Regions from separate parts of the Homo sapiens genome. Here all the other regions are linked to region 5. The links come from fine-mapping of genetic effects on gene expression. A gene starts in region 5. Each other region holds a variant in brackets. All regions are shown on one strand. Distances are from middle to middle.

Region 1 (5,101 bases), 330 kb after region 5:
CCGACAGCATCTCTACTCCATCATAGTATGCGTGTCTGCTGAGTTCAGACGCGGCTCAGACTGATTCTCTGCATAATCGGTGTTTCTTTTTCTTTTCTTTCTTGCTTTCTTTTTTTTTTTTTTTTTTTCGAGACAAGGTCTCACTCTGTTGCTCTGGCTGGAGTGCAGTGGCACAATAATAGCTCACTGCAGTCTGAACCTTCCAGGCTCAAGTGATCTTCCCACCTCATCCTCCCGAGTAGTTGGCACCCCAGGCACACACCACCATGTCCAGCTAATTATTATTATTATTATTTTTTTTTGTAGAGACGGGGTCTCGCTATGTTGCCCAGGTTGGTCTCAAACTCCTCGGCTCAAGCAGTTCTCCTGCCTTGGCCTCCCAAAGTACTGGGATTACAGGTATGAGCCACAGTGTCCGGCCATAATCAGTGTTTCATACCATCAGATCTGGTACATGGATTGAAACCTGTTTGCTAATTCCAGTCTACATGGAGCCAACCACTATGAAAACCTGGAAACTTGGTTGGGTTTTTTAGCTTTTATCTTGGTCTCTGGCTTGATTGAATGTAGATGCTCATGGGGTAGAATCTGAGCGCTCAAGACACGACCACCCAGTGCCTCCTGAAATATCACTGTTAGTCACTCCTTAGGGTGCCCTTTCAAAGTAGGAAATGCGGGAATCTTTTTGAATAGCACCTTCGTGTGGATTTTATAGCCTAAGAAAGGGTCCTGGGATAGCAGCAGAGCTGGGAAACTTTGGGAAGGGAGAGAAGGAAAGATGGAGGGCTCGACCCTCTCTGCAGACTTCCAGCCGGGGGACCAGCCCTGGATTGAAAAACAGGCAAGTGGCCAGGCGCGGTGGCTCACACCTGTAATCCCAGCACTTTGGGAGGCCGAGGCAGGCAGATCACCTGAAGTCAGGAGTTTGAGGCCAGCCTAGCCAACATGGTAAAACCCTGTCTCTACTAAAACTACAAAAATTGGCTGGATGTGGTGGCACGTGCCTATAGTCCCAGCTACTCAGGAGGCTGAGGCTGGAGAATCACTTGAACCTGGGAGGCGAATGTTGCAGTGAGCAGAGATCACGCCACTGTACTCTAGCTTGGGCAATAGAACGAGACTCCGTCTCAAAAAAAAAAATATAGTAAAATAGGCAAGCAATGATGAAGAGGACACATAGCAACAGGGCCTCTCACATCCACAGGTCACTTCCCAGTGTACAAAGCGCTCTCATTTAAAAGATGAGGAGACAGACACAGAGAAGCTCAGCCAGGCATCAGTGCCACACAGCAAACAGGCAGAATTGTCAAATGTGACCCTAACACCCAAGACCTTTCCACAGCTGAGTGAAGTGTTGTCATAGATCTCCTAGTTGTCAAATTACTTTCCTGCTTTTTTTTTTTTTTTTTTGAGACAGAGTCTCGATCAGTTGCCCAGGCTAGAGTGCAGTGGCGTGATCTCGGCTCACTGCAACCTTCGCCTCCCGGATTCAAGCAATTCTCTTGACTCAGCCTCCCGAGTAGCTGGGACTACAGGCGCCCGCCATCATGCCTAGCTAATTTTTTATTTTTGTAGAGACAGGGTTTCACCATGTTGGCCAGGTGGTCTTGAACTCCTGACCTCAGGTGACCCGCCTGCCTCGGCCTCCCAAAGTGCTGGGATTACAGGCGTGAGCCACCACCGTGCCCCACCCTTTTCCTGCTTCTTTCCTGACCACACCATCAGCAGGTCTGTAACTGCTGCTTCTCTGCAGCGTCCCAGAACTAAGCACGTGAATGGCACACGTGAAATAGAAACATGATGTGTCTTTCTCACTCGTGGTCCATGGGGCTTGGCCCCATCTCCCCAACTGGAGGGAAGCTTCTCGTGGCACCATGATCTCGGGCTGTCCCCTCTGCCCACCTCCAGCCTTCCTAACAGTGCTCCATGGTTCAGTGTGGCTTCAAGTTGAAAACATGGTGGGCAGGAGAGGTTTTGGGGGCTGGGAGTAAAGTGAAGTGGTTGACCTGGCCACTGTTTTTTAAGCCTCTGCGACTGGTTTGGTTTAACACTGAAGTGGAATCTGTGTATTAAATGCTGTAATGCCTTAAAATTAACTCCCCCGAGAGCATCTGCCTAATTTTTCTCCTTTGGCTCTATGTAAGTTGCCTTGGCAGGGTCTCTGCGAATCTTAGTCTTCCATATGAAAAAGTACTGCTTGCTAAGTATAGCTTATATCCTGAGCCCCAGGGAGAAAATAGAGAAAAGATTTCCGGTAAAATCAACCTCCGTAGAAGTTCAGTAGAGGGACCTCTTCACACTTGCCCCGGTTCTGATCCTGCATGAACAGTACTTTATCCTCTCCTCCTCTTCCCTGCTGCAGTCTTATGCTCCATGCAGTCCCTCTTCCAGGGAGCTGCTGGACTCATCTCCACGCAGTAGGAGTCTGGCTGCATCACCACTGCCCTCCTCTTACTGGAAACGCTTCAGTCCAAGTTCTGTAGCTCTGTGCCCTGACTCTGCCCTGTCTCACACACACCAGGCAGGTCACGTTGGTGGATTAATGGGACTGGATGAAGGGGACATCAGGCAGTGGAAGTGGCTGTACGGAAACAGGGTGAAGGCTACACCCCATCTAAAGAGAACCAACCCAACTCTGATTATTGCCATGGAAGAATATGGCCTCCATGTTTCCAGATCCTGATTGTTCAACATAATTTTGGGAATCTGAGTTTTTATATGAAATAGCCTAATTTTCAAGCGTTGGTTTATATATATATCTTAAAACACTATATGGGCCATCAACAAAGCGTGTCTGTGGGCCACACACCCACATGTTGGGACCACTTTTGCCCTTTGCTGTGTGGCCCCAAGATGTTGGCAGCTCTCCATAAATGCCATGCCCTTTCCTCTCTGTGACTTTCTCCGTCCTGATCCCTACGCTGTCTTTGGCAGGTCAGCTTGTCCTCATATAGTGCTTGTAACAGCTATGTGACTTTGGGCCAGTTACTCACCATCCTGATGCCTCAGTTCCCTCCTCTATGAAGTGGGAATAAGGGTGACTGGGAAGAATACGTGAGTTAACAAATGCAAAGTGTTAGAAAACGCTGCACATATTGTT[C/A]ATCAGTGTCATCATCGTCATCATCCTTATTATTGTCCTCCATCTAGTCTTGGCTGTCACCTCTGAGATGCCTGCCTAGACTCCTTGAAAGCAGGCTGTCCCCACCCCACCCCAATTCTGTAACACCCCAATCCCCACAGCCATCTCACTGCATTATCTGTTGGCTTCTCAGTACGCCCTGGACTGTGGGCACCTTGAGAGGAGGAATATCTTTCTGTCCATACACAACTTCGAACAAACACTTGGCCCAGAAGAGGCCTCCATAGAGGCTTACTAAGTGGATGCACCTTTCATGAATGGTGGTCTGGAAGCCTGATACCACTTGATATTTCCATCCAGATGTTATTGTTACCACCCAGGCCAAGAATGTGCTTCTTCTGGAGGCACAACAAGGTGGGGCTTGTCTGGCTGCACCACAGCATAATATCTATCCCTCCTCACAGCTCTGCTCTCTGATGGAAGCAAGGAAACAGGAAGTGAAATTGACAGGCACTGACCAACCTGGTTTCACATCAGGGGTGAATGAAAAGGACGAGCCCCCCTCCCTAGGGTGGGGCGGGAGGGAGGTGGGAGTGGGGGTGGGGATGGGACATGAGTCATGATGTGTCACTGAGATTTTTTTGGATGCATTTTTCAGTTTCAAAAGCATGAGGCGTTATTACTATGGGTTGAGAACCTGGAGTGCCAAATGACTGTGTCCCAAACAGGATGGCGCAATTGGTGTCTGGTAAAGTACCTGGGAGTTTTCTTTGTTCCAAGTGGGGTTTGTGGCTCAGCACAGGGGCCTTACAGTGATGTTATGGTCCCCATACAGTAGCGATCCGGAAGATCTGTGCCCTGACTAATTCTTCTGCCCTTGAGCTGGTGTTTAAAAGAAAAAAAAAAACCCTCTGTGGTCGCAACCAAGATGTAATGATAGACTTTGAGCCCCGAGAGTCTCACCCAGCCTACTCCGGCACGTTTTGGGATGCTGCGAAACTGAATTGAGGTGCCTGTCATCATAAGAGAACTGAACGAGTGGGGGTAAGAATTAAGATCAGCAAGAGCTGTGTTTCTCGCTGGTTGTACAAACAGGCACTTGCCGGAAGCTGCCTCAGTGGGAACAAGGTGGAGCTTCATGAGGGCCCTGTTGAGTCTTTGCTGGGAATGATGGAGGTTTTTTCCATTTTCTCATTTTCCATTACTCTAATATGGTTATAACCTGGGACTTTTTGTGTGTGGGGTCCTGGAAGGATGTTTGTGATATTCAGGAGTTCTGGTGGGAGTCGGGTAGGGTGTGGATAGGGTGAACCTGAAACTTGCCCCAAATTTGTGTTCCATTCATCAATACCAATTACCCACCACATCTTTTAGCATTTATTCAAGAAATGCATGTTGTGGCTGGAAGAATATGGGATTTGGAGTCCACTGTGCCTGGTCTTTCCTGGACAACTGGGTTGGACAAATTCCTCTACCTCTCTGAGCCCCGTTTCTTCATCTTCAATAATGCGTTTGTGATGTAGAGCTTTTGGGAAATAATTAAAGGGATGATGTGCAGACAGGTCCAGACAGACTGACCACAAGGCTGGAGAAGGTCAGTCTTAGGACCCTCCCAAGGCCATTTATCTTTTTTTTTTTTTTTTTTTTGAGATGGAGTCTAGCTCTGTCGCCCAGGCTGGAGTGCAGTGGTATGGTCTTGGCTCATTGCAACCTCCGCCTCCCGGGTTCAAGAGATTCTTGTGCCTCAGCCTCCTGAATAGCTGGAATTATAGGCGTCTACCACCATGTCTGGCTTATTTTTGTATTTTTAGTAGAGACAGGGTTTCACCATGTTGGCCAGGCTGGTCTAAAACTCCTGACCTCAAGTGATTCACCCGCCTTGGCCTCCCAAAGTGCTGGGATTACAGGCACCCTTTATCTAATTTTATTTGTGTATTATCATATTTTTTAAAGAGGGACCCCCAAATTGTATAGGCTTCAGGCTCAACAGAACCTGGACCCAGCCTTGATCTTGTATCTTGA
Region 2 (5,101 bases), 92 kb before region 5:
CTATTTCAGACCACACCCCTCATCTTCCAGCCCCCAGGAAGGCCCAGGCTCTCTTCACCCTCCACCTGAGGGCCTACCTCCACATCCCTAAATATCCTAATTCTTCTCATTCTTCAATGCCTGACCCAAATGCCACCTCTTCCCAGAAACCTCCCTGTCTTCTCCCTTCTCTGAGCAAGACGCCAAGGCCACTCACTCTGGGGTTCAGAATCCTTTCATTCCCTCGGCTGAAGGCTGTTTCCCGCTTGGAGCCTCTGGCCAACACAGGTAGGAACTCATCTCCCTGGAGGGAGCAAAGCAGCCACTGGCACCAGGATGTGGCTGCCTCCCCCACCACCTTCCAGAGCCATGTTCTAACTGCTCCCCGCCAGGCGGTCCCCAGCCTCCCCCTAGCTCAGCTTACATGTAGGTGAGTCTTGGGGAGGAAGTCTGACTTGGTGACACTCTGGCCTGGGAGGAGGGCCTGGAAATAGGCCCACAGAGGATGTCAGCCCCGCAGAGGCAGCCTGGGCCCCTGGTGGCTCCCACCCACTCTGCCTCCAGGCCACTGCTGTGCTGAGCACAGAGGAGGACTCAGCTCAAATGGGCATCACTGAGAAAAGGGAAGTGTTTGGGGAGAAGACAGGGGAAGGCATGACTCTGAATGGGACCAGCAGGCCAGGGCTCTTGTCTGAACTCTGAATGACATTGGCTACACCTCCTTCATCTCTTTGGACCTCAGTCTTCTCATCTATAAATGGGGGACTTGGACCAAAGCAGTGGTTTTCACCTAAGCTCTTTCGTCTTGTGTTTGAACAAAGGGCTCTGCAGCTCACATTCTTTAGGAAAGCTAGAAACCCTGAGACTGGAGGGCTTCAAGCCCCCTAAAGTTCTAGCAGGAGCCCAGCCGACTTACAGGGTCCCCAGGGAGGGCCTGTGAGGGCGGTTGGAAGACAATGGGGCTCTGGTGGGACTGTTTGGTGAAGCCACTCCCCTCCTTTGCGCCGATCGATTTCTTCTGCAAGAAATCTGCAAAAGAAATGCCCTGTGTGCTGCCAGGCCACCTGGCCCACCCATGTGTCCTCCAGAGGCTCAGTGTCCCAGCAGGTGCAGAGGGAGTGGATCCCAAGATCCTGGAGACCTGCGCCATGAGGATCGTGGGTGGCAGGGTGAGGATTCCAGAGTCCAGGCCGGAGGACAGGAGAGGGAGCAGCAGGAAGGGCATGCACCGGCCAAGCCACCCTCCTGAGAGGCCCAAGGTACTGAGGTCAGCCCGGGAGAGGCGCTTCCCTCCAGCCACCTGTGCATCCTTCTTTCTTCCACTGGTGCCTTCTCAGTCCTAGGCCAGCTCCAGGGCCCCTGGGGTAGCAAGTAGGGAGGTGGATTGGAAGATGGGAAGGGAGCTGTGAGTTCAGACAGGGCCTACCTGGCTGGTCTAGAGGGTCCCTGAGATACTTGGAATTGTACTCCGACGTCATGAAGCGTGGGCCCTGGAACAGAGAGGTTGGAGGAGTGGGGGCACTGACCCACCAGGGCCCCGAAGGCGTGTGGCGGCGGTGGAGTGGCGCCTCGGTTCTCTGTGCTCTGAGGAAGCCTGTGTGGGCCAGTACAGCACCCTGGACACAAGTCTCTGTGGGGTGGGACATCGCAGGGCCAGGAATTTCAGCACAAAGCACAGTTCCCCTGTGACTATGAATACCACGTCACACCCCACACCAGACTCCTGGTAATGAGTGGGGGGCCCAGAGGGACCGAGACCAGGAGGGGCCGTGAGCAGGAGGAGGAAGGCTGGGGGAAGAGGAGTAGCGTTAAATCGCGAGAAGCCACATTGAGGCTATTTTGGAAATAGCCAATATCAAATCCTTTGCTCTCCCATCTTTCTTGGCGCCCTGAGCCCACCCTGAGCTGGCTTCTTGGGTGAGTCAGTGCAATACTTGTCTTGAGGTGGGAGGAAGAGGCGGGTGTGGCCCCTCTGCCCCACCCCGAAGCCCTTAGC[T/C]GGGCTGCCACTCACATGTCGGAAGTTCTCCCGCTCCAGCGGGTCCTGGCCCTGCTGCTGGTGGAGCAGAGGCACTTCCCTGGGCTCCAGCCCCGTGATGGCCTGAGGCCCGTGCTCCTGGGTGTCGAAATGGACCTTCCGGACCTGGGAGGAAGAAGGGCCAATTACAAGTGAGGGGGCGGCAGTCACTCCCTGACTCTGCTTCTGCCCTTGACCTTTACAGAGCGCAGTATCTGCAGAGCAGCCAGAGGGGGTCCTTTTACAATGAAACCTGCATGTCCCCTCTCTGCTTAGAGCCCTGCAGCCTTCCCATCACACTCGCAGGGAATTCCACGTCCTCCTGGTGGCCTGCAAGGACCTGAGTGCCTCACCCTGCTCTAGCTGCTTGTCTCCTTTCTGTTCCCACCTTGAGGCCTTTGCACTTGCTGTTGGCACTGCCTGGACCACTCCTCCCTCAGACAGCTGCAACTGGAGGAGCTGGCCTCCCTCAAGTTTTTGTCCAGTGTCTCCATAGCAAGCTCTTTCCCGACCCTCCCGATTTGCAGTTGCAACTCCTTCGCTTCTAATTTATTTATTACTTACATTTTTTGAGACAGAGTCTCGCTCTGTTGCCCAGGCTGGAGTGCAGTGGCATGATCTCAGCTTCCTGCAAACTCCACCTCCTGAGTTCAATCAATTCTTGTGCCTCAGCCTCCCAAGTAGCTGGGACTACAGATGCAAGCCACCACACCTGGCTATTTTTTTTTTGTATTTTTTTGGTAGAGATGGGGTTTCACCATGATGGCCAGGCTGACCCAACAGCAGTTGGCCTCAAGTGATCCACCTGACTCAGCCTCCCAAAGTGCTGGGATTACAGGTGTGAGCCACCACGCCTGGCTTTATTTTTTTTTAGTCCAAGTCTCATTCTATTGCCCAGGCAATCTCAGCCTCACTGCAACCTCCGCCTCCCGAGTTCAAGCAATTCTCCTGCCTCAGCCTTCTGAGTAGCTGGGATTATAGGTGCGTGCCACCATGCCCAGCTAGTTTTTGTATTTTTAGTAGAGATGGAGTTTCACCATGTTGGCCAGACTGGTCTCAAACTCCTGACCTCAAGTGATCTGCCTGCTTCAGCTTCCCAAAGTGCTGGGATTACAGGTGTGAGCCATCGCACCTGGCCTCCAACTCCTTCACTTCTCTTCCTCCCTGCTTCTCCCTGTTGTATTTCCTAACCCCCGCCCCACCCCGCACTCCACCCGCTCTTATCATCTTCAAATATGAAGGAGATATTCAGAACATTCTCGCTGGATGAATGAATGAGTGTCCATTTTGGTGGTGGTGCTGATGATAAGAAGGGTGGTAATAATGAGGATAGAAATGAAAAAGATGGGGCTGGGCGCAGTGGCTCACGCCTGTAATCCCAGCACTTTGGGAGGCTGAGGCGGGCAGATCACGAGGTCAGGAGATTGAGACTATCCTGGCTAACACGGTGAAACCCTGTCTGTACTAAAAATACAAAATATTAGCCGGGTGTGGTGGCACATGCCTGTAATCCCAGCTACTGGGGAGGCTGAGGCAGGAGAATCGCTTGAACCCAGGAGGTGGAGGTTGCAGTGAGCCGAGATCGTGCCACTGCACTCCAGCCTGGGCAACAGAGTGAGACTCCATCTCAAAAAAAAAAAAAAAAAAAAGAAAAAGAAATGAAAAAGATGGGGTGAGGATGTCCATGGTGGGGGGACAGTGGTGGTAGTAGGGACAGTGATGGGGCTTGCAGGTGTGGACGGGAGTGTGAGGCTCATGGGAATGGGGACAGGGATGGGGATGGAAATGGAGGTGGAGGTAATGGTGGGGCTGGGGCAGGGAATAGAGGTGGTGGGGATGGTGGGGACAAGGATGAGGACAAAGGGGAGAAAGATGAGTGGACCCCATCCCTACAAGGTGGCTGCTCCATGCCCTGTCACCTCCACCTTGACCAACTGTTGGCAGTGCAGCCCTAGCCCCACCCCACCCTGAGGCTTCCCTCTCCTGGCCCTGGCCCAGCACTGACCTCCTTGGTGGGGGGACCCGCACTGGGCTTCTCCCGCCCATAGCCTGAGCTGGTCTGGCGCATGCTCCAGGGCAGGGGATGCTTGCCGTCAGGCACCTCCAGGGGGCGGTAGCTCTGGCTGGCCACAGACTGGAAATGGTCCTGGGCTTGTTCCCTGAGGGTGAGGAGGAGCTAGAACCCCAGGCCGCCTGCCTCTGTCCTCTGCTAAGGAGCTTCCCTCCTCCCTGCACCCTCCCACAGATGGCTCAGAGGTCCGCTGTGCCCTGAGTCACCCAGGACCCCCAGCCTAGGGCAGGCAAAGCTCAGGGTCCCCATCCAAGGAACCTGGAGTTGGTCTGATGAGCAGGGCAGGGGCTGGGAAGGGGCCATACAGACCGTACCCCCTGGCCGGGTTGTCTAAGGCCTCCAGACTGGCTTGGCATGAGACCACGGGCTGGAAATTTGATTTGTAGCCGGTGCCTACGTGACTGCCCACACGGGGCTTGAAATCCTCCCGACCTGCCAGAGGGGTAACGGGGAGACAGACCCCAAGGTCAAAAACAGGCAGGGCTTCCCAGGCAGGGCCAGCGTCCTCCGAGGGGCACAGGGGTCACAGTGACAGGGGAGGGCTCAGAGCCACGGGCAGGAGCTTTGCAAGCCTGCCCTTTCAGGACTGTGATGGCAGGAAATGGAGTGGGTGGGCTGGGGACAAGGTCAGTGTGGCAGAATCACAGTGACAGAATTGCAGGGACAGAACCAGAGAAGGGAGCAGCCGGGCAGGGCCCAGGGGACAAACGGATTCAGCAGTTGCTCTGCAGTGTGACAGCCAGAGGGTCTGCTCCTCCCTCAGAGAGAGCCCCTCCCTTCCTGCCCATGTCCTAGCAGAGGCTCCTGCGCAAAGGCACCCTCACCGTAGGCGGTGCAGTAGCTGGTGGCGTAGAATTTCAGGGGGTCCGTGTAGCCCCCCGAACTCATCTTCACATAAGGGGAGACGACCCCCAGGGGGAGTTTCCCCATCATGATGCTGTGGGGCAGGGCCCCAGGGGGCCTAGAAAGGAAGCACGGGGAGCCTCATGGGTCCCAAGCCTGGCTCGGAAGCCCACAGGGGCGAAGATCTGCCCCCC
Region 3 (5,101 bases), 47 kb before region 5:
AACAATAATAAAAGATATGAAAACACAGATCCAAGATGCCCAGAGAACCCAAAAGCACGATAAATATCAAATGCCTACATATATAAATATCAAATAAATACCTATGTATATAATATTGAAACGGCTAGAAACCAAAGACAAAATATTGAAAAGATTCAGAAAGAGAAGACACATAAAAAGGAACAAAGATACAGCAGACCTCGTCACAAACTATGGAAATGAGAAAACAGCACATGGTAACACCGGAGGGAATATGAAGCTGGTGATGCACTGAAGGTAACCAGAGCAAAACCAAAGTCCAAACCCAGCGGAACTCCTGACTACCCGATCTTGTACACTAAGAGCTGGCGGTAGAAGTGTTTCTATTTAACAGAAGAAAAAACATTGTGACCCTCGAATTCTATATCCAGTGAAAGTATCTTCCAAAATGGAAAATCTGGCCAGGCATGGTGGCTCACACCTGTAATCCCAGCACTTTGGGAGGCCGAGGCAGGTGGATTGCTTGAGCTCAGGAGTTTGAGACCAGTCTGGGCAACATGGCAAAACCTCATCTCCACAAAAAATACAACAACAACAAAAATTAGCTGGGCATGGTGCTGCCGGCCTGTAGTCCCAGCTATTCTGGAGGCTGAGGTGGGAGGATCGCTTGAGCCCAGGAGGTGGAGCCTGCACTGAGCCATGACTGCACCACTGCACTCCAGCCTGGGTGACAGAGTGAGATCCTGTCTCAAAAAAAAAAAAAAGGGAGGAGTGGTGGGGGGCGGAATTTGAAGAGACATGTCACCAAATATACATAAAGGGCTGATAAGCCCTTGAAAAGATCCTCAATATTATTAGTCATTAGGGACATGCCAATTAAAACTATAGTGATGTACCAATATATACTTCTTGGAATGGCTAAAAACAAAAACAAAACCCTGATAATACAAAGTGTGGGTAAAGATGTGGAACACCAACCCCTCCCTTCACATCCAACACCCTGGCAATCACTGATTTGTCCCTGTAAGTTTTGCCTTTTTCAGATTATCATGTAAACAGAATCACATTCTTGGAGTCCAATTATGTACTGAGTATGTACTTGTTGAGTCTGATCTTTTTTTTTTTTTTTTTGAGATGGAGCCTCGCTCTGTCACCCAGGCTGGAGTATAGTGGCATGATCTCGGCTTACTGCAACCTCCGACTCCCTGGTTTAAGAGATTCTCCTGCCCCAGCCTCCCAAGTAGCTGAGATTACAGGCGCCCACCACCACGCCCAGTATTTTTAGTAGAGACGGGGTTTCACCATGTTGGCCAAGATGGTCTCAATCTCCTGACCTCGTGATCCGCCCACCTCAGCCTACCAAAGTGCTGGGATTACAGGCGTGAGCCACCGCGTCTGGTTGAGTTTGACCTCTTTTGCTTAGCACAGAAGCTGGCAAACTATGCCCTGTGAGCTAAGAATGATTTTTAGAGATTGGGTCTCACTCTTGCCCAGGCTGAAATGCAGTGGCGTGATCATAGGTCATTGCAGTCTCTGAACTCCTGGGCTCAAGTGATCCTCCCAAGTAGCTGGGAATACAGTGTGCACCACCAAGCCCAGCTAACTTATTTTTATTTTTGGAGATAGGGGGTCTATGTTGCCCAGGCTGGTCCCAAACTCCTGGCCTCAAGAGATCCTTTGCCTCAGCCTTCCAAAGCGCTGGAATTATAGGTGTGAGCCACTGCATCCAGCCAAGAATGATTTTTTAATGGTTGGGGAAAAAAAATCAAATGTATATTTCATAACTGGTGAAAACAGTATGAAATTCTATTTTCAGTGTCCACAAATAAGGTTTTATTGAAACACAATCATATTCGTTTACCTGCTATCTGTGGCTGCTTTCATGCTACAAAGGTCGAGGTGAGTAGTTATGAGAGGCTGTATGGCCTGCAAAGCCTAAAATATTCATTATCTGTATTTACTATCTATATTTACCTATTATAGAAAAAGCTTACTATCTATATTTACCTATTACAGAAAAAATGTACTAAAAGTTTTATTTATTTATTTTTGAGACAGAGTCTCATTCTGTCACCCAGGCTGGAGTGCAGTGGCCCAATCTTGGCTCACTGCAACCTCCACCTCCCAGGTTTAAGCGATTCTCCTGACTCAGCCTCCCGAGTAGCTGGGACTACAGGAACCCGCCACCACACCCAGCTAATTTTTTGTCGTTTTAGTAGAAACGGGGTTTCACCGTGTTAGCCAGGAAGGTCTCGATCTCCTGGCCTCAGGTGATCCACCCGCCTCGACCTCCCAAAGTGCTGGGATTACAGGTGTTGACTCACCGCGCCCAGCCCTATTTATTTTTTTGAAAGAGTCTCACTCTGTCGCCCAGGTTGGAGCACAGTGGCGTGATCTTGGCTCACTGCAACCTCTGCCTCCCGGATTCAAGAGATTCTCTTGCCTCAGCCTCCAGAGTAGCTGGGCGCACCACCACACGCGGCTAACTTTTGCATTTTTAGTAGAGACGGGGTATTGTCATGCTGGCCAGGCTGGTCTCGAACTCCTGGCCTCAAGTGATCCACCTGCCTCGGCTTCCCAGAGGAGGAGCATGTGATCTCATGCTGAAATTACAGGCATGAGCTACCACACCTGGCCCTATTATAAAGTTAAACATATACACTTACCACATGACCCAGCAAATCCTTCTCCTGAGTATTCACTCAAGAAAAACTAAAACCTATGTTCACAAAATCTGTATGCAAATGTTTACAGTGGCTTCATTTATAATCACCTAAAGCTGGAAATAATCCTAATGTCCCTCAGCTGGTCAA[A/C]AGATGAACAGACCATGGTACATCCACACAATGGAATATTACTCAACACAAAAGAATGAACTATTGATACAAGTAACAACAAGGATACGCATCTCAAATGCATTATGCTAAGTCAGGGCAAACTTGTTCTGTAAAGGGTTGGAGAGTAAATATTTGGACTTTGTTGGCTTTCCAGTGATTGTATAAGGCTCCAGACTCTGTCTTATCACTCTTCATACCTGGAACCCATAGACAATGGCTGCTACTTTCTGATACAAATATTGAGTGGAGACACAAAAACAGCAGTCCCGGAGTGTGGCAGAATGAATGACACGTCCCCTAATATCCAGTTTTCATCGATAACAGAATCTCCAACACAGCTGGGCAGATGGAATAGACTATATTATTTTTCCTTATGGTTAGACGTAGCCAAGTAACTAAGCTGTGGCCAATGGCAAATAAGTGGAAGTATGCTGGATAATTTCCTGAGCGGGATCTACAAAGGAGGGGTATGCACTTCCACACACTTTTTCCGGGCTGAAATATGGCTGTCCTGGATCAAGAAGTAGAAAACACATGCTAGGATGAAAGAGCAGCAAGTAGGGGGGACCTGGACCCATGACTTTTTGAAGCCCCTCTATGAGCTCTGGAGTGTGCCTTCCTCTGGACTTCTGTCATGAGAAAGACAGTTCTACCTTGTTTAAGCCATTACTGTTTTGGATGTTTTTTTACTCATAGCCAAAGTTAATCCTAACTATACACAGTTAGAATTCATTCCTCATAAAGGTAGTGCCTGAATGAAACTTTTTTTTTTTTGAGACATAGTCTCACTCTTTTGCCCAGGATGGAGTGCAGTGGTGCAATCTCAGCTCACTGCAATCTCTGTCTCCCAGGCTCAAGCGATTCTCTTGCCTCAGCCTCCCAAGTAGCTGAGACTGCAGTTGTCCGCCACCATGTTCGGCTAATTTTTGAATTTTTGGAGAGATGAGGTTTCGCTGTGTTGGCCAGGCTGCTCTCAAGCTCCTAACCTCAAGCGATCCATCCGCCTCAGCCTCCCAAAGTGCTCAGATTAGAGGCATGAGCCACTGCGGCCGGCCAGAATGAAACTATTGAGGAGCTTTGGCTATGCAGACTTAGTTGTCTGATTCCACTCCATTCCCAGAGTGGTTCTTCTTCAACCTTTGATACTGTGAGCTTCATATACCCTTCCACTAAATTCCTTTTTGCTTAAGTGAGACAAACAAGTTTCCACTCTGTCTCGCAAATAAAGAACTTTAACTGATAAATTTTGTACACTTAACAAAAATTTGAACAGTGTTTGGGTTGAGTGTCTACTTCATGAATAAAAGAAAAAAATTATAAGCCAGGCACAGTGGCTCATGCCTGTAATCCCAGGATTTTGGGAGGCCGAGGCGGGCGGATCACCTGAGGTCAGGAGTTCGAGACTAGCCTGACCAACACAGAGAAACCCTGTCTCTATTAAAAATATAAAATTACCCGGGTGTGGTGACACATGCCTGTAATCCCAGGTACTCAGGAGGCTGAGGCTGGAGAATCGCTTGAACCTGGAAGGTAGAGGTTGCAGTGAGCCGAGATCATGCCATTGCACTCCAGCCTGGGCAACGAGAGTGAAACTCAGTCTCAAAAAAAAAAAAGAAAGAAAAAAATTATCTAGGATACAATTCTAGACTCAAATCAGCCTAAACTGTCCTATTTTCACATTATGCTGCTTATCATACCCAGTACCTGTGGCCCAGTAGTAAATATCCCAGTCATTACTAGGCTCGTTAATCAGGCGGTCATAGAGGTTCAGCTGCTTTTCTGTCATGTGCTGCAGATGTTCTTTAGCAAAAAGACTAAAAACAAGAAAGAAAAAAAGAAAAAGAGGTTGAGAAGGCTGTGTCTAATAAAAGAGAAGTGACACCAAGACTCCTACTCCTGGGAGTCTCTCTGAACCTACTCTGGCTCAGGAAGCTGCCCGATTTAAAAAAAAAGACTCCTAGTCCCATACCTAAGAAGAATGCAGTTTTCCAACATTCCCCTCTTTCTGCTCTCATAGAGCAGGCGGGCTCTTTTGGTTTCTATGGATTCATCAGTTCTCTCCTGCCATGGAGGCAAAGGGATTTCAATCATGTCCTTTTGGGAATCTGTTGGGCTGTCACCTCTGTAGAAGCGTCTGAATGATGTCACACTGAGCAAAGGAGACAATAGGCTGTGCCTTGACAGAGCAAGCATCTGAAATGAACAAACCACAAACATCTTTACAATAATGACGACTATCATCGCTATCATTTACTCAATGCTTACTAGGTGCTGAATGCATTCAATCA
Region 4 (5,101 bases), 82 kb before region 5:
TTATTGTGCCAGAGCTGAGCTACGAATCACCTCATCATCGCTTTTCACTCCCGGCTCTACGTGGGAACTACTATAATCCTGCCCATGTTACATGTGAGGAAACTGCCTGAGGCCTCGCAGACAGGGAGGAGTGGAGCTGGGATCCAAACTCAGCTTTGACCCTGGAATCTATGCCCCGCCCTCTGGAACACACCAGCAAATTCTCCAGAAAGCGCCGGGACCTTAGCACTGGGCTTTTCCAAAGGGATGATTTTCCAAAGGGATGGGCTGCCCTGGCCAGATGGGCAACTGCCTCCTACTTTCTAGCTCTGCCCAGTCCTGGGCAGTAAGATTCCCGTTTCCAGCCGGGCACAGTGGCTCATGCCTGTAATCCCAGCACTTTGGGAGGCCAAAGCAGGCAGATCACCTGAAGTCAGGAGTTCGAGATCAGCCTGGCCAACATGGCAAAACCCCGTCTCTACTAAAAATACAAAAATTAGCAAGGCATGGTGGTGGGCGCCTGTAATCCCAGCTACTCGGGAGGCTGAGGCAGGGAGAACTCCTTGAATGCAGGAGTAAGAGGTTGCAGTGAGCCGAGATTACACCACTGCACTCCAGCCTGGGCGACAGAGCAAGACTCCATCTCAGAAAAAAAAAAAAAAGATTCCCCTGTTTCCCTCCCATACGAAGGCAGAGGCTACAGACACACTAGGTTAGCAGAGAGGACCCAGTGAGAGGACATGCTGGGTCTCAGCCCATAGAGTTCCTTGGCTGGGATCAGTGGGGTAGGCCCTAACAGGCTCCCGAGGCCAGAGCACACCACCACTGAGTGCTGAGTCCTGAGCAGAGACAGACATCTGCGCTCTGTGCTGGGCCATGTGGGCTGCAGTTCCCTAAAAGAGGATTAACTGAAGTGAATGAGCCACACACCACCAAGTGTGTGTCATTTTGCTTTGGTTGATGTGGGTCTTTATAGCCGCCCTCAGAGGGAAGCCAGGGCTCTTGTAGGGAAGAGACAGGTTGGCATACTTCAGCTTAATGGATAGAAAAGCCTCCTAACACACAAAATAATCCAATAGGGGAACAGGCTGCCCTGGGGGGAGTGAGTTCCCCATCCCAGGAGGCATGCAACAGCTTGACAGGATGACAATAAGAGCAAACTTTCACTGGTTCGTTAGGTATCAGGGACTGTTTCTAAGCACTTCCCATGATTAGCACAATTAAACTTCACCGCATTCCTACCTGGTGGGTGGTATCAGCTCCTCCATTTTATAGATGAAGAAACTCAGACACAGAGAGGCTGCGTAACTTGTCACAGGTCACACAGCTACTAAGGGGAAAAGCCATTATTTGAACCCAGACATCCTGACTTCAAAGGTCATGCTGGTGACCACTTTGATATTGCCTCAAAGGTTGAGCTAGAGGTTCTCAGATCTATTTTCAAAATCTGACCTCCTATGACTTTTTAAATCTCTTTTTAAACCTGATTACCTCTATAGAGAAAAAAAAATAAAAAGATTTTAAGAAAATGTTTATAGAGACAGGATCTTGCTTTGTTGCCCAGGCTGGTCTCAAACTCCTGGCTTCAAGGGATCCTCCTGCCTCGGCCTCCCAAAGTGCTGGGAATACAGGTGTGAACCACCATGCTAGGCCTAAAAATCCTTTTAAAGAGTTCACCCCTCTCATGGTCCTCAGTTTGTGCTGGGCACTGCTGGGTGAAAAATTCACAGAAGAAAGGTCTGAAATTGTTCGAATCAGCTAAGATGATTGAGAAATGGGAAACAGATCCCTGGGATGCAGCTAAAGGCACTGAGCCCTCCCAGCCCAGGAGGCTGGGGGTGGCAGGGAGAGGGTAATTATACTCCTACTTTTGAAATTCCCATGCTGGAGGCTGGGACAAGCCTAGAGTAATGTTTCTTGGCTTCAGGTGATCTGAGGTTACATGCCTGCCCCTTTCTGAGCCTTTTCTAGGCTTGAGTTTGAGGTCTGGCTCTGGCACAAATAGTGCTATGTGACCCTTCTTAATTAACTGCCTCCCTCTGATCCTGTTGCCTGTGAAGAGGGGGTTGAGCCAGGATAGGAGGTTTGGCTTGCTTTAGTTTGAGATGTGTTGTTTGGCCTGGAGAACTTGGAGCTCTGTCTTCATATACTGAAGTGATGGCTGGTTCCACGTCCCCTCCCCCTGGGCCCCTCACCTGCCATCTGTGACATAGCAGGACCCCAGCCTACCCCCTTCCAAGGTCCTTCCCCTCTGCCTTATTACAGCGGGGCATGGAGGGGAGTCGGCCTCATGCCAACCCACACTCAGCCTGGCCTCTAGGCCTGCTGGACCTGCACAGGGAGTTTCTCCCAAGCCAGACTCCAAGGTGCCCACAAAGGACACAAGGGCTCACTGAACCCCTCATTCTGCCCCCAGAGTACTGTTTCCCAACCCAGATTCTTCTGAGCCCACCAACAAAGCTCACCCAGGTGAGATGCCCCAAGCTCAGCTGCTCCAACTGACCCTTTCAGGGGAGCAGTTTGAAGCTGGGACGCAGCATAAAGGGGATCATGGCAGAGAAGAGCTGACTGGGAGGACATCAAGTCTGTGAGGCCCTGTCTTCCCTGCGATGGGGAAGAGCATGGAGCCCTGGATTCGTGCAACCACCTTTCTGTCTAGTCCTGGGAGTGGGGGCTGCCCTGCTTCATGGGCTCAGCTGTGTGAGCACCAAGGAGTGATGGGTGAC[A/G]TAATGACCGTGGGGGCGCAGGTTGGGTCCAGGGCGTGGTCTGCAGGCAGGCCTGTCATCGATTTTGCCCATTTCCAGTTTCTCTGCTCTGTGACTTGCAGTGATTAAGGCAGGAGAGCTGCCCAGGACTGGGGCCCCCCTTCCGAAAGTGCTTTGGGGGTTCTATTCACTGAGCTGTGTCATTACCAGGAACTGAAATAGCCCAAGTCTAATGGCTAAGTCCCATCTCTCTCTCTTTCGTAAAAGGAAATGATTCCCCTGATGACCGGATTGCTTTCCCTCACAGCCTCCCACAATCCTGGCCTCACTTGTGGTTCATTTCTCCCCTCAGTGGGCATTTCCTGGAAGACTCTATCCTGTGTATCTGATGGCTGTTCTGTTCCTGCCTGTTCTGTTCTTTTACTGTCTCCTCTGGGTGAACTTGTTGATCTCACACAAGGTTTAAAAATTCATGACTCGCGGGGAAGATGAAATGAGATGAGGCAGAAAATAAGAAGCCATTCCCAATCCTCAGATGGAATGAAGATATTCTTGGCAGAGATGAGCAAGGAACCAGGACAGGGGTCAAGGGGGTGGGTTTCCAATGCACAGAGATCTGGGTTCAATTCTGCAGCCCTGCCTTTATGAGGTATGTGCCCTTGGACAACTTCCTTAACTTCTCCGAGCCTGTTTCCTTGGCTGTATGATGAGGTCACAGTAGAACTTTAAGAGACTTAGGCTTGGAATACAGAAAAGACAATATTTACATGCTTAGCACACAGCCTGGCATAGAGAAAGCACTCAAGAAATGTTTATGATTATCATTGCATTTTCCTGCCTTCCTTGCAGTTAGATAAGGGCCACATGGCTGGTTCTGTGGGTGGAATTGAGCAGTGCCACTCCCAGTCTGAGTAGTTAGAGGTGGGTGTGAGTTTTCCATTCTCTGTGGGTAGAAATCACACTTGGGATGGAAGAACCAAAAGATGGAAGCAGGCTGGATCTCTGAGTCACTGCATGGAGTCAGCTGCCCTGGAGCTGCTTTTCCTGCAGCACACTGGGATGTGATAGAGAGATAAACCTTGCTGCTTTAAGCCTCTAAGGTTTGGGGTTTTGTTTGTTACTGCGGCATAAGCAAAGAAATGAAGATTTGAGAACTTCTTAGGAAATAAATTAGGATGTGATTCTGTATTAGTCAGCATTCTCTAGCAAAACAGAATGTGCACACACACACATACACGAGAGACAGAGAGAGACAGATTTATTATACAGAATTGGCTCTGCCTGGGCCAGTGATGCCTGTAATCCCAGCACTTTGGGAAGCTGAAGTGGAGGGTTGCTTGAGCTCAGGAGTTCAAGACCAGCCTGAGCAACACAGTGAAACTCCGTCTCTACAAAAAAAAAATTTTTTTTAATTAGCTGGGCATGGTAGCATGTGCCTGTAGTCCCAGCTACTTGGGAGGCTGAGGTGGGAGGATCACTCAAGCCCTGGAGGTTGAGGCTGCAGTGAGCCATAATCGTGCCATTGCAGTCCAGCCTGGGCAACAGAGTAAGACCCCATCTCAAAAAAAAAAAAAAAAAAAGGAATTGGCCCACGTGACTATGAAGGCTGGCAAGTCCCAAGATCTTCAGGATGAGTTGGTTGGCAAGCTGACGACCCAAGAGAGCTGATGGCTTAGTTCCAGAGTAAGTCCAAAGGCTTGAGAACTGAGAGAGCTGATGTAGTTCTTGTCTCAAGGCCAGCAGGCTTGAGACTCAGGAAGAGCCAGTGTTCCCAGGCGAATCTGAAGGCAGGATAAAAGCCTGTGTCTCAGTTTGAAGGCTACCAGGCAGAAAGAATTGCCTTTCACTTGCGAGAGTGTAAGTCTTTTTGTTGTATTCAAACCTTGAGCTGATTACATGAAGCCCACCCCGGTTAGGGGGACAGACTGCTTTACTCAGTTTACCAATTTAAATGCCAATTTCATCCAAAAACATCCTCATAGAAACACCCAGAAGAATACTCGATCACATATCCAGGTACCCAGTCACCTAGACAAATTGAGACACAAATTAACTGTCACATTCAGGCATATGAAACTCACTGGAAGCAGACAGATGAGAGGCCTACTGAAATTTTGAGAAAACAGTAATGCCCAAAAAAAATGGGGCTTTTTTTGTTTGGTTTTTGTTTTTTTTTTTTTTTTTTTAGAGAAAGGGTCTTGCTCTGTCACCCAGGCTGGAGTGCAGTGGCGCAATCATAGCTCACTGTGACCTCAACCTCCTGGACTCAAGAGATTCTCCCGCCTCAGCCTCAAGTCGCTGGAACTACAGGCATGAGCCACCGCCCCTGGCCATGGGCCTGGTCTTTAAAAAGATTGTGACTATTTGAAACTTAAAACTTCCATGGGCAGGAAGTGGGCTGAGAAATCCACACAACC
Region 5 (5,101 bases):
CACGCCTGTAATCCCAGCACCTTGGGGAGGCCAAGGCAGGAAGATTGCTTGAGGCCAGGAGCTTCAGACCAGCCTGGGCAACAAGGCAAGACACTGTCTCTACAAAAAACACAAAATTAGCCAGGTATGATGTCGCACACCTGTGGTCCCAGCTACTCAGGAGGCTGAAGTTGGAGGACTGCTTGAGCCCAGGGCTTCAAGGCTGCTGTGAGCTATGATCGTACCACTGTACTACAGCCTAGGTGACAGAATGAGACCCTGTCTCAAATAAATAAATGTTTAAAAAACAAAATCTGGCCAGGTGTGATGGCTCACACCTATAATCCCAGCACTTTGGGAGGCCAAGGCGGGTGGATCATGAGGTCAGGAGATCGAGACCATCCTAGCCAACATGGTGAAACTCTATCTCTACTAAAAATATAAAAACTTGCCGGGCATGGTGGCAGGCGCCTGCAGTCCCAGCTACTCAGGAGGCTGAGGCAGGAGAATTGCTTGAACCCGGGAGGCGGAGGCTGCAGTGAGCCGAGATGGTGCCACTGCACTCCAGCCCAGGTGACAGAGTGAGACTCCATCTCAAAAAAAAAAAAAAATCCAACCAGGTGCAGTGGCCCACATTTGTAATCCCACCACCTTGGGAGGCCGACACAGGCAGATCACAAGGTCAAGAGATCGAGACCATCCTGGCCAACATGGTGAAACCCCGTCTCTATTAAAAATACAAAAATTAGCTGGGAGCAGTGGTGCACGCCTGTAATCCCAGCTACTCAGGAGGCTGAGGCAGGAGAATCGCTTGATCCCGGGAGGCAGAGATTGCAGTGATCCGAGATCGTGCCATTGCACTCCAGCCTGGGGACAGAGTGAGACTCCATCTCAAAAAAAAAAAACAAAAAACTCCTACAGAGATCCTTATTCAGAGAATTGTTAGGGATCTTAGTACTGATCTGTACAGGATACACTGCCTGCCCTGACGTGGAGTTACAACTGAACCTATTCCCCTAAGAATACTAGTGAGAAGAACCAAGCACTCTTCTTGCAGTTAGGCAGCTGGGAAGGAATCATCTAATATCCCATTCTATTGCCCATCTCTAGCCTTACAGAGCAACAAACAGGTAAATCTTGACCCAATGTATGAAGCAGCAACTTGAAACTTCAGAGACGGAGTAATAGGATATACAGATCCAGTCTATGATAGTCAACCTAGGTTATGTACTTTTCTTGTTAATCAAGTTACAGATACCAGCTTGTCTCATAAGGAGTGGAAATATTCTCTGGACAACACTTACCAAAAAACAGGCGAATTACTTCAATTCCAAGATAAAGGAGGAGCATCACCACATCCAGTACTAGGTTAGCTGTTGGATATGGTAGCAGGACACCTGCCAATACAAAAGCCAGAGTTTGCAAACAGCATATAACAGCACCCACAAGAACTGCCACACACTTGGGAAAAAAGAGGACATCAGTCTCAGCTTTCCATGAACTAGTTAGTGAGATGTGGGCATTATTACAGCAGCAGGATACATAAACTCACAATGCGACTCAGGCTCATTATTATGGTGTTTTACTCCTAACTCCAAAAGTCTCTGGGGACTCCACTCTCCAAAATGATTGGATGTACATGGGTACACAGGCCACTGAATAGTTTCTAAGGGTCACCAGTGGGCTTACAGTGGAGCTCAGCAAAGAGCAGTGATGTGGGCAGAGTCAGAATGGAGAAGCCCACATTTCTCAAACTCAAGAAATTCTTGCTGAGGGGCTGCCTATGGAATCATACTCAAAGAAGCCATCTGATGAGGAGGCCTGCCTTGCAGCGACAAAGAACTGCAGGGGGCAGAAAAGAACGGAAAATAAGAAGGTTCTTGGTAGGAATTGGCTCTGAGCTGAAGTGGGGAAGGGATGCTGTCGTCAAGCCCCAAGCCTTCCTTACCTTTATACAGAAATATGAAAAGTTCCAGCAGGAAATAGGTAGCATTATACCACCCGTTCAGAAAGAACAGGATTTCCAGCGGGGTGGAGGACAACCGTTTACCTGAAAAAGGAGCACAGAGAAGTGGGATGGGCCGGAAGGCAGCTCCCTCTCTGCTCGTATGGGTTGGTGTCTAACTTTGGGGAAACTAGACGCTGCAACTAATGGGACCGGCCACTCAGGGGCACTTCTGGTTGCTGATAATGAGGGGGCGAGGGTACGGGGGTGGGAGTGGAGGGGGCTTCCCTCCTTTCCTAGGAATCACCGTGAAACTCGACTCTTCGGCTTCAGGAATAAAAGTCAAGAGGTAACTCGCAGCTGACAGACATCTCAAAGATCTCACTCTGTCACTATTTGGGAGGGGAAGTTGGGGCGCAGAGACCAACAGATTCGCACCTGAGCCAGCCTAGAAGTGGCCCAGCCAAGGATCTGCGTTTATTTGAGCTGTGCACCTTGAGACCTTCAGGCACCCAGGGTGGGCGGGACCGCGGAAGCCGGCTTTGGACCAGGGAGGCGCGACGTCCCTAACGCTAGAGAATGGAGGGTTTAGGTCAAGCTCTGGGACAGAGGTGGGAGGGAGCGACCGAAGGGAAAGGGACCAGCGACTCACACACCTCCGGAATCTCACCTCGCGGCGCCATCTTCAGTCCCCGTGGCAGCATACGCTGCCACAGCGGCTCCCGGAGCAGCGCGGCGCTGCCGGAAACAGGGACGAAGCGGCCTGGGTTTCCGGCCCCTCTGCCCGCCCGCGGCACTCTGTGGTCACCCGGAGCTGGACGAGCTCGGGCCTGGCCGCAAGTGGCCCTCGCTCGGATGTCCCCTCTCCAGACCTAAGGGATAACGGTGACCACCCACGACGCCGTCGTCTGCAGGACCTCAGGGGTGCGGGGGAGGACCTTGGAGGCTCTCAGACTACCGGGCGTTGGGCGGAAGTGGCCAGTTGTGATAGTGTTACCAGGAGATTGGCAAATAGGTCCTACTCCCACGATTCTCTTTTTTCAACGGAAGACAAGAAAAGGTGTGAGCGACGGATCTCTGCAAATGCAGGGTGGAGTTAGCATTGGTCTTTTCTGCGGCCGATTTACCTACCAGGTAGAGACACGAAGGAAATAGAGCGTCCTTTCCAGGAACACACATAAATAAAATGAAACGAGTCACCACGCGATCCATAAAGTGGTGCAGTGGGAGCTGAGAGGACAAAGTGCTCCCAGGTGGAAATCTAAGTTAGTTTCCAAGAGACGGCCTGTGAGCTGGGCTTCAAAGCCTGCCTGATCCGGATTTGCAGCGGTAAAAGCGTGTTGCTGGCCGGGCTTAGTGGCTCACGCCTGTAATCCCAGCACTTTGGGAGGCCGAGGTGATGGATCACCTGAGGTCAGGAGTTCGAAATCAGCCTGGCCAACATGGCGAAACCCCGTCTCTACTAAAAATACAAAAATTAGCCGGGCGTACTGGCGCGCGCCAGTAGTTACAGCTACTTGGGAGGCTGAGGTAGGAGAATCGCTCGAACCCGGGAGGCGGAGGTTGCAGTGAGCTGAGATCGCGCCACCGCACTCCAGCCTGGGCGACAGTGAGACTCTGTCTCAAAAAAAAAAAAAAACAGAAAACTGTGTTGCTGCAGGCAGGGGAGTGCAAAAAGAAGGGTTTTGAGAGGACTCAGGTTGACTTGACTTGGCTGTTAGCCCGTTGTCAATCAGGGTAAAGCAGGAAACAGATGGCACGCTCCAACCAGGTAGCCTGAGGAAGGTGACTAAGCTTTATTTTATTTATTTCATTTTATTTTTGAGACGGAGTTTTGCTCTTGTAACCCAGGCTGGAGTGCAATGGCGCTATCTCTGGTCACTGCAACCTCCGCCTCCTGGGTTCAAGCGATTCTCCAGTCTCAGCCTCCCAAGTAGCGGGGATTACAGGTGCCCCCCACCACACCCGGCTAAATATTTTTGCATTTTTAGTAGAGACGGGGTTTCACCATGTTGGCCAGGCTGGTCTGGAACTCCTGACCTCAGGTGACCCGCCCCCCCCCCCCCCCCCCCCCCCCCCCCCCGCCTCCCAAAGTGCTGGGATTACAGGTGTGATTAATGCCCCCGGCCAAGAGTGACTAAGCTTTAAGCAAAGTGCTGTACCCCTGGCTAATTGGGATGTGGTGGGGCGGTAATTGTTACTTCTAGGCTTAAAAGGGAAGGGCCTGAAACAATTCCCTGAAGCTGGAGAGTAATATGTGCATAGAAGGCCTCCCACTAGGAACCCTCACACTCTAGGAGGCTAGTGGATAAATATAGCAGGGACCTCCATTTCCCTTCTCCCATCTCTGATCTCTGCTTATGTCTCCCGCTGACACAACTTAACTGCAAGCTGGAGGGCAAGGAAGCCCTTTAGGGTAAGTAGGAAAGCGCAGAGCACAGAGGTTAAGGTGGAAAGGAATCCAGATCCTGCTTCCCCATCTTCGCTGCCTGCAAGACAAGAGACATTAGAAAAGTTCCTGCTCTGAGCCTGATATGGAAAGAAAGTGGGCCAGCTGCACCTGGCGCGGTGGCTCACACCTGTAATCCCAGCACTTTGGGAGGCTGAGGCGGGTGGATCACTTGAGGTCAGGAATTCAAGACCAGCCTGACCAACATGGTGAAACCCCATCTCTACTAAAAATACAAAATTAGCCGGGCATGATGGCACATGCCTCTAATCCCAGCTACTTGGGGGGCTGAGGCATAAGAATCGCTTGAACCTGGGAGGCGGAGGTTGCAGTGAGCTGAGACCAAGCCATTGCACTCCAGCCTGGGCAACAAGAGTGAAACTATGTCTCAAAAGAAAAACAAAGAAAGTGGGCCAGCTGCTTGTTTTTGTAAATAAAAGTTCTTTGGAGAACGTCATCATGGTCACTTACTTACATGTTATTATATATTGCAGCTTTCATGCTATTATGGCAATGTTAAGTAGTTGCAACAGAGACCACATGGCCCACAGCCTTAAATACCATCTGACCCTTTAAGAAAAAGTTGGCTAATCTATGTCAGAGTATGCCACAACTTCATAGATGCCAAAAGCTGACAGTGAGGCCAAATTACTTATGGCAAACAGCAGGAACATCAGCATGGCAACCTGGGGGCCCCCTGCTCCCAAGTCCTATGAGTGACACAATGA

Which allele goes with the higher level. Positions count from the first base shown, and alleles are read on the strand shown. Sizes are in standard deviations (SD) of each study's normalised expression. Not every link is listed here.
In carriers of allele G in region 4, the expression in testis of the gene that starts at base 2,673 in region 5 tends to be lower than with A alone (moderate effect, 0.56 SD a copy in GTEx).

Evidence for each region.
Region 1: its variant is fine-mapped to the expression of TMEM216 in spinal cord (GTEx, PIP 0.96).
Region 2: its variant is fine-mapped to the expression of TMEM216 in subcutaneous fat (GTEx, PIP 0.91).
Region 3: its variant is fine-mapped to the expression of TMEM216 in fibroblasts (GTEx, PIP 0.98). The same link has a PIP of 0.9 or more in hypothalamus, lung and skeletal muscle.
Region 4: its variant is fine-mapped to the expression of TMEM216 in testis (GTEx, PIP above 0.99).

The regions. Positions count from the first base shown.
Region 1 is chr11:61,060,162-61,065,262 of GRCh38, reverse strand. It overlaps LINC02954 (long intergenic non-protein coding RNA 2954), which reads right to left. Exons shown (of 4, transcript NR_186234.1): 3 at 3,388-3,552. All of the region lies in intron 1 of LOC105369325 (a long non-coding RNA gene), which reads left to right. Among named protein-coding and RNA genes, the nearest start is that of LINC02954, 7.3 kb to the right of the region's middle. RefSeq lists enhancers at 3,253-3,492, 3,843-4,082, 3,148-4,347. The variant C/A (reference allele first, on the strand shown) is at 3,101.
Region 2 is chr11:61,481,706-61,486,806 of GRCh38, reverse strand. SAXO4 (stabilizer of axonemal microtubules 4) reads right to left here. Exons shown (of 14, transcript NM_145017.3): 2 at 4,889-5,025; 3 at 4,379-4,496; 4 at 3,999-4,152; 5 at 1,991-2,119; 6 at 1,406-1,469; 7 at 896-1,008; 8 at 404-463; 9 at 197-283. The coding sequence starts at 4,997. Among named protein-coding and RNA genes, the nearest start is that of SAXO4, 3.1 kb to the right of the region's middle. RefSeq lists enhancers at 1-704, 3,956-4,250. The variant T/C (reference allele first, on the strand shown) is at 1,976.
Region 3 is chr11:61,437,530-61,442,630 of GRCh38, reverse strand. It overlaps SDHAF2 (succinate dehydrogenase complex assembly factor 2), which reads right to left. Exons shown (of 4, transcript NM_017841.4): 2 at 4,783-5,006; 3 at 4,518-4,627. Among named protein-coding and RNA genes, the nearest start is that of SDHAF2, 10 kb to the right of the region's middle. The variant A/C (reference allele first, on the strand shown) is at 2,793.
Region 4 is chr11:61,472,356-61,477,456 of GRCh38, reverse strand. No RefSeq gene overlaps it. Among named protein-coding and RNA genes, the nearest start is that of SAXO4, 6.2 kb to the left of the region's middle. The variant A/G (reference allele first, on the strand shown) is at 2,706.
Region 5 is chr11:61,390,159-61,395,259 of GRCh38, reverse strand. TMEM216 (transmembrane protein 216) reads right to left here and starts at 2,673. Exons shown (of 5, transcript NM_001173990.3): 1 at 2,595-2,673; 2 at 1,928-2,029; 3 at 1,284-1,376. The coding sequence starts at 2,628. RefSeq lists an enhancer at 1,947-2,908.